Linked DNA regions of Homo sapiens. The protein of the gene in region 2 purifies or fractionates together with the protein of the main gene of each other region. This does not show direct contact. Each region holds a gene or a part of one and is shown on either strand. Other genes may lie near its edges.

Region 1 (3,500 bases), on a different chromosome or scaffold from region 2:
GTCCAAAAACCACGCCATACACTCAGTCACCTTACAGTTCTTAAAACATTTATAACATGAGGATTTCCATTTTGAAAGATCACAAAAGACTGCAATCTCACATCCAAACCGCTAGAGAGGGTGCAATGAGCCAAGATCACGCCACTGTACTCCAGCCTGGGTGACAGAGAGACTCTGTCTCAGAATAAATAAAAAGTAAACTGCTAGAGAAGAAAATGTTTTTCAAAGAGTAATCTAAAAAGCAGCTGTCTCTATAACCCACAAATTCCCAAAGACTAAGCCACATGTCCCCACCAATTCCAGGGTGTTTTATTGACACACCCACACAGAAGAGGCCTCGATATTAGCTGGGGCAAAATGCATGTAATTTAAGAAAGCCGCCGGGCGCAGTGGCTCACACCTGTAATCCCAGCACTTTGGGAGGCCGAGGCGGGCAGATCATGAGGTCAGGAGATGGAGACCATCCTGGCTAACACGGTGAAACCCCGTCTCTACTAAAAATACAAAAAATTAGCCGGGCGTGGTGGCAGGCGCCTGTAGTCCCAGCTACTTGGGAGGCTGAGGCAGGAGAATGGCATGAACCTGGGAAGCGGAACTTGGAGTGAGCCGAGATGGCGCCACTGCACTCCAGCCTGGGCAACAGAGCGAGACTCCGTCTCAAAAAAAAAAAAAAAAAAAAAAAAGAAAGCAAATGTTTACTTCAAAGTGTTTCTAAGAATGATGCACCACAGAATAATAATAATAGTAAACATTTATGAGCGGCATAATGAGAAGCAGTATAGCGCTGTAGTTAAAATCTAGAGCTAGACTTTCTAGGATTCAAGCCTGGCTCTGTCACTTACCAGCTGAGTAAATTTGGGCACCTGATTTAACCTCTGTTTCCTCATCTGTAAAATGGGAATGGTAATAGTACATATTCCACACGGTTGGTATGGAGATGAAATTGAATCGATTCTAAGTAACGCATATATTGAAAAAACTTTACTATGGAAAAGTTCAAACTTACACAAAAGCAGAGATTACATAATGAATCTCCACATACTTTTCACTCATCTTCGATGATCAACATTTTGTTGATCTTGCCTATCAGCCTGATTTTGCTTAAGCTCAATATTTTAAAGCAATCCCAGACACATCATTTCACCTATAAATATTCCAGTATGGGCCAGGCGTGGTGGCTCACGCCTGTAATCCCAGCACTTTGGGAGGCGGAGGCAGGCGGATCACTTGAGGTCAGGAGTTCGAGAGCTGCCTGGTCAACATGGCGAAACCCTGTCTCTACTAAAAATAAAAAAAAAATTAGCCAGGCCTGGTGGTGTGTACCTGTAATCCCAGCTACTCAGGAGGCTGAAGCAAGAGAATCGCTTGACCCCAGGAGGCGGAGGTTGCAGTGAGCCAAGATTGGGCCACTGCACTCAAGCCTAGGCAACAGAGCAGAACGCCGTCTTAAAAAAACAAAAAATACACACACACACACACACACACACGTATATATACGCATATATATGTGTATATATGCGTATATATGTATATATACACATATATGTGTATATATATATGCGTATATATGTATATATACACATATATGTGTATATATATATGCGTATATATGTAGATATACATATATATATACACACATGTGCCTGTGATCCCAGCACTTCGGGAGGCTGAGGTGGGTGGATCACAAGGTCAGGAGATCGAGACCATCCTTGCTAACACAGTGAAACTCTATCTCTACTAAAAAATACAAAAAATTAGCCAGACATGGTGGCGGGCACCTGTAGTCCCCGCTACTCAGGAGGCTGAGATGGGAGAATGGCGTGAACCCAGGAGGCGGAGCTTGCAGTGAGCCGAGATCGCGCCACTGCACTCCAGCCTGGGCGACACAGTGAGACTCTGTCTCAAAAATAAAATAAAATAAAATAAAATACATATATTTAATACCATTTTACAATAATTGACAATATCAACAGATAACAAAATTAACAGCAATTCACTTTTTTAAATTTTTTTTTGGCTGGGTGCAGTGGCTAGCTCCTGTAATCTCAGCACACTGGGAGGCTGAGGTGGGCAGCCTGCTTGATCCCAGGAGTTCAAGACCAGCCTGGGCAACATAACAAAACCCCATCTCTGCAAAAAAATACATAAATTAGCTGGGCGTGGTGGCACACGTCTGTATTCCCAGCTGCTTGGGAGGCTGCGGTGGGAGGATTGCTTGAACTGAGGAGGTCGAGGCTGCAGTGAGCTATGATCACACTACTGCACTCCAGCCTAGGTGACAAAGTAAGGCCCTATCTCAAACTATATAAATAATTTTTTTTTAAGCCTTGCTCTGTTGCCCAGGCTGGGGTCCAGTATATGATCTTACGATCTTAATTCACCATAACCTTTAATTCCTAGGCTCAAGTGATCCTTTCGCCTCGGCCTCCCCAAAGTGCTGGGATTGAGGCATGAGCCACTGTGCCCAGCCCAGTGGTAATTCTTTTTTTTTTTTCTTTTGAGACAGAGTCTTGCACTGTCACACATGTTGGAGTGCAGTGGAGTAATCTTGGCTCACTGCAACCTCCGCCTCCCGGGTTCAAGTGATTCTCCTGCCTCAGCCTCCCGAATAGCTGGGATGACAGGCGACTGCCACCATGACTGGCTAATTCTTGTGTTTTTAGTAGAGACAGGGTTTCACCATGTTGGCCAGGCTGGTCTTGAACTCCTGACCTCAGGTAATCCGCCTGCCTCGGCTTCCCAAAGTGCTGGGATTATAGGTGTAAGCCACTGCGCCTGGCTGAATGGTAATTCTTTAGTAACATGTAACACCTCATCTGTGTTCAAACTTCCCTGATTTAATACTCTCAATCTAATTTTTCTGGATGTGTCAATGACATGTCATAGTTCAATAGCATTTTTTCTGTATTAATTGAATATAATGGTACATTTTACAATCAATGACATCTTACATTTGATAAAGTATAATATATGTAGTGTGCTTAGAACTGAGGGCTATGTATTCGTATCTGTTCACCCAAAATTGGACACTTACTGTGTTCCAGACCTAATCTAAGCTCTTTACATGTTTTATCTCATTTAAGCCTCTCCACAATCTTATGAGGTATGTATGCACTGTTACCATTCCCATGTTAGATATAGAAAATCCAGGCATAGAGAAGATAAGGTCTCAAAGTCATGAAGCTAACAAGTGGTACAGCCATTATTTGAACCCAGTTTACTCCAGATCCCACACTCTAAATCACAATGCAGCATGGATGCCTAATATTCTCAGGTCAGTCCATCAACTTCCAAGTAAATGAGTCTCCAAAAGCATCAAAGGTATTATTTCCTTAAAATGATTAAATACATGGATTTGCTTTCAAATTCATGTTTCTAATACTCAACTATAATATATCTTAAATCTCTGGAAGTCCTTTAATCAATTTTTCAGATGAATTTTTTTTTTTTTTTTTGAGACAGAGTCTCACTCTGTTGCCCAGGCTGGAATGCAGTGGTGC
Region 2 (3,500 bases):
AGGGCTGCTTCTGGGAAGGGTGGCAGGCACACTGAACTGGGGATAGGGTTAAAGGAGGCTTTGGCTATATTTCTAATTGCTTTTCCTTTAAACAAATAACCAGAAGCAAAAAAAAAAAAAAAAAAAAAGATGTTAGCAAATGTTAATTCTCAGTTATAGAAAAATGGCTCTTAATTACATTATTATACTTTTGTTAACCATAAATTTCTTAGAAAAATAAAGGAAAAGGATTTCAAAGTGCTTAGTTTTGTGATACCTCATCCCCTACACCTACTTAGATAGGCAGGCCACAACATACGCAGAAGCTGTGTTCTCAAAGTTCATTGGTTTTTAGACCTTATTTGTTTTCCCATCAACACAATGTTATACCTAACTGTTAGGTTCCAAGGCCAGCTCTCCCATTATTTAATGTATAACCTAACAAATGTTAAGCCTAACAGTACCTCTCTCACCTTCTCTAATCATGAGGCAACTGATCACTCACGATATGGCAAAAAGGGAACCCAAGAGTTGAGTTTACCCCTGCTCCTGACAGGGCACAGGCTAGATGTTTCTTTTCTTTTCTTTCTTACTTTCTCTCCCCTCTCTGTCTTTCTTTCTTTCTTATAATAGAGATGGGCCTCACCATGTTGCACAGGCTGGTCTCAAATTCCTGGCTTCAAGCAGTCCTCCTGCCTCAGCCTCCCAAAGTGCTGGGATCACGGGCATGAGCCACGGTGCCCAGCCCAGGCTTGGTTGTTTCTTTTCTTTTTTCTTTTTTTTTTTTTTTTTGAGACAGAGTTTTGCTCTTGTCATGCAGGCTGGAGTGCAATAGCATGATCTCAGCTCACTGCAACCTCCACCTCTCAGGTTCAAGCGATTCTCCTGCCTCAGCCTCCTGAGTAGCTGGGACTACAGGTGCCTGCCACCAGGCCTGGCTAATTTTTGTATTTTTAGTAGAGATAGGGTTTGACCAAGTTGGCCAGGCTGGTCTCAACCTCAGGAGATTCGCGTGCCTCAGCCTCCCAAAGTGCAGAGATTACAGATATGAGCCATTGCACCCAGCCCCAGGCTAGGTGTTTCTGTGTACAGAATGTTTTCAAGTTTGCTGGTCAGGCTTTATACATACATACATACATACATACGTACATATACATACATACACTTATATGCACACATGTATATATATAAAATATATACATATATAATATACACATATATCTTTAAAATATATAATATAAACTAAGTATGTATCAACTTATAAACTATACACACATATATGATATAAACTAATATAGTAATGTGCCACATAAGGATGTTTTGGTCAAGAACGTACCCCATATTCCACGGCAGTCCCGTTAAGACTATGATGGAGCTGAAAAATCCCTACAGCCTAGTAACACAGCTTTCATGATGTTGTAGCACAAAGCATTACTCACATGCCTGTGGTGATGCTGGTGTAAATAAACCTACTGCACTGTCAGTGTTATAAAAGTATAACACATACAATTATGTACAGTACATAACACTTGATAATGATAATAAACAACTACATTACTAATTCACATGTTTACTATACTATATATTATTATTTTAGAGTGTAACTCTACTTATTTAAAAAATTAACTATAAAACAGCTTGAGGCAGGTCCTTCAGGAGGAATTCCTGAAGAACGCACTGTTATCCTAGGAGATGACAGCTCCATGCCTATCACTGTCCCCGAAGGCCTTCCAGTGGGATGAAATGTGGAGATGGAAGGCAGTGACACTGATGATCCTGACCCTGTCTAGGTCCAGGCTAATGTGTGCGTTTGTGTCTTGGTTTTTAACAAAGAAGTTTAAAAGGTAAAAAGAAAGTTAAAAAATTTAAAGTAGAAAACAGCTTACAGAATAAAAATATACAGAAAATATTTTTGTACAGCAGTACAATGTGCTTGTGTTTTAAACTGTTATTACAAAAGGGTCAAAAAGCTGTAAAAAAATTTTTTAAGTTCATGAAGTAAATAATTTACAGTAAGCTAGGTTTAATTTATTATTGAAAGAAAAAAGCGTATGAATAAATTTAGTGTAGCTTAAGCATACCGTGTTTATTTTTATTTTTCATAATGTCTGCTCAGTAACAAGTGTACAGTGTTTATAAAGTCTACAGTAGTGTACACTCATATCCTAGGGCTTCACATTCATTCACCACTCATTCACTCACTCACCCAGAGCAACTTCCAGGCCCACAAGCTCCATTCATGCTAAGTTCCCTAGATAGGTCTATCATTTTTTATCTTTTATAACATATTTTTACTTTACCTTTTCTATATTTACATATGTTTAGATACAAAAATATTTACCATTGTGTTCCAATTGCCTGCAGTATTTAGTACAGTAACATACTGTGTAGGTTTGTAGCCTGTAGCCTAGGAGCAACAAGCTATACCATATAGCCTAGGTGTGTAGTAGGCTATGCCATCTACATTTGTGTTAAGTACACTCTATGATGTTCACATGACAAGGAAATTTCCTACTGACAATGTATTTCTACTGTTAAGTGATACATAACTATATGTATATTAGTTTGTATTGTTCAGTAATGGAGAGATTGTGTTAGACTCTAGGGGCCAGGGATCAAGTAACTGTACTAGGGTCCCCAACACTTAGGTGCCATGGCAATAAATAAATGAAGAGCTAACCAAATGCCTGCATTCTGGACAGCTCTGTTTAAAAGGTATTTCATGGAGTTTTTCATTTAATCAATAGAAATCCAATCACTAGGCCAGGCATGGTACCTCACGCCTGTAATCCCAGCACTTTGGGAGGTGGAAGCGGGTGGATCATTTGAGGTCAGGAGTTTGAGACCAGCCTGGTCAACATGGTAAAACCCCACCTCTACTAAAATACAAAAATTAGCCGGGTGTGGTAGCACATGCCTGTAATCCCAGGTACTTGGGAGCCTGAGGCAGGAGAATCGCTTGAACCCAGGAGGCGGAGGTTACGGTGAGTGGAGATCGCACCACTGCACTCCAGCCTGGGCGACAAGAGCGAAACTCTGTCTCAAAAAAAATAAAAATAAAAAAAGAAAAAAAAAAAGAAATCCAATCAATAAAAGCAGAGAATAGTTTCCATTCAGTAAGTGGTAAACAACAACTAATGCATTTGGCACTTTCTCTTTCACAGCTTCTATCTAAAGCCAATCTCATGAGGCACCAACTTTCATACCAGGCACTATCACTTCTCTGCTTCCTATATCTCCCTCCTCTCCCAGAGACAGAATGTTTCAGAAAGTAGATTTGCTGCCTAAGATTCATGTCATTGAAGCTGCAGTAGAAGAGTCATTTAATATATGAAATATAAGGCAAGACTTTTCAAAAAAAATTCTCTCTCAGAAAATACAAGTCACTTTATATTCAAATACTTACAAAGTACCTCTTGCTGTAGGAAGTTTTGCAATTTCCTTATTTTGAATACAAAGTACCAGCTGGGGATGACACAATACCCTAAAACAACCTCAGTTAAGGCTGCTTTGGCTAATGG

Evidence for each region. Proteins that work in one complex are often made in the same cells at the same time.
Region 1: the proteins of FNTB (region 2) and PITHD1 purify together in Homo sapiens (affinity purification with mass spectrometry, with the first as the bait; 3 studies listed by BioGRID). This does not show direct contact.

Annotation. Positions count from the first base shown.
Region 1 is NC_000001.11:23,781,418-23,784,917, reverse strand, and holds part of PITHD1 (PITH domain-containing protein 1), read right to left. Parts: intron 1-3,500. UniProt on the Homo sapiens protein: Promotes megakaryocyte differentiation by up-regulating RUNX1 expression.
Region 2 is NC_000014.9:64,993,395-64,996,894, reverse strand, and holds part of FNTB (protein farnesyltransferase subunit beta), read right to left. Parts: intron 1-3,500. UniProt on the Homo sapiens protein: Essential subunit of the farnesyltransferase complex. Catalyzes the transfer of a farnesyl moiety from farnesyl diphosphate to a cysteine at the fourth position from the C-terminus of several proteins having the C-terminal sequence Cys-aliphatic-aliphatic-X.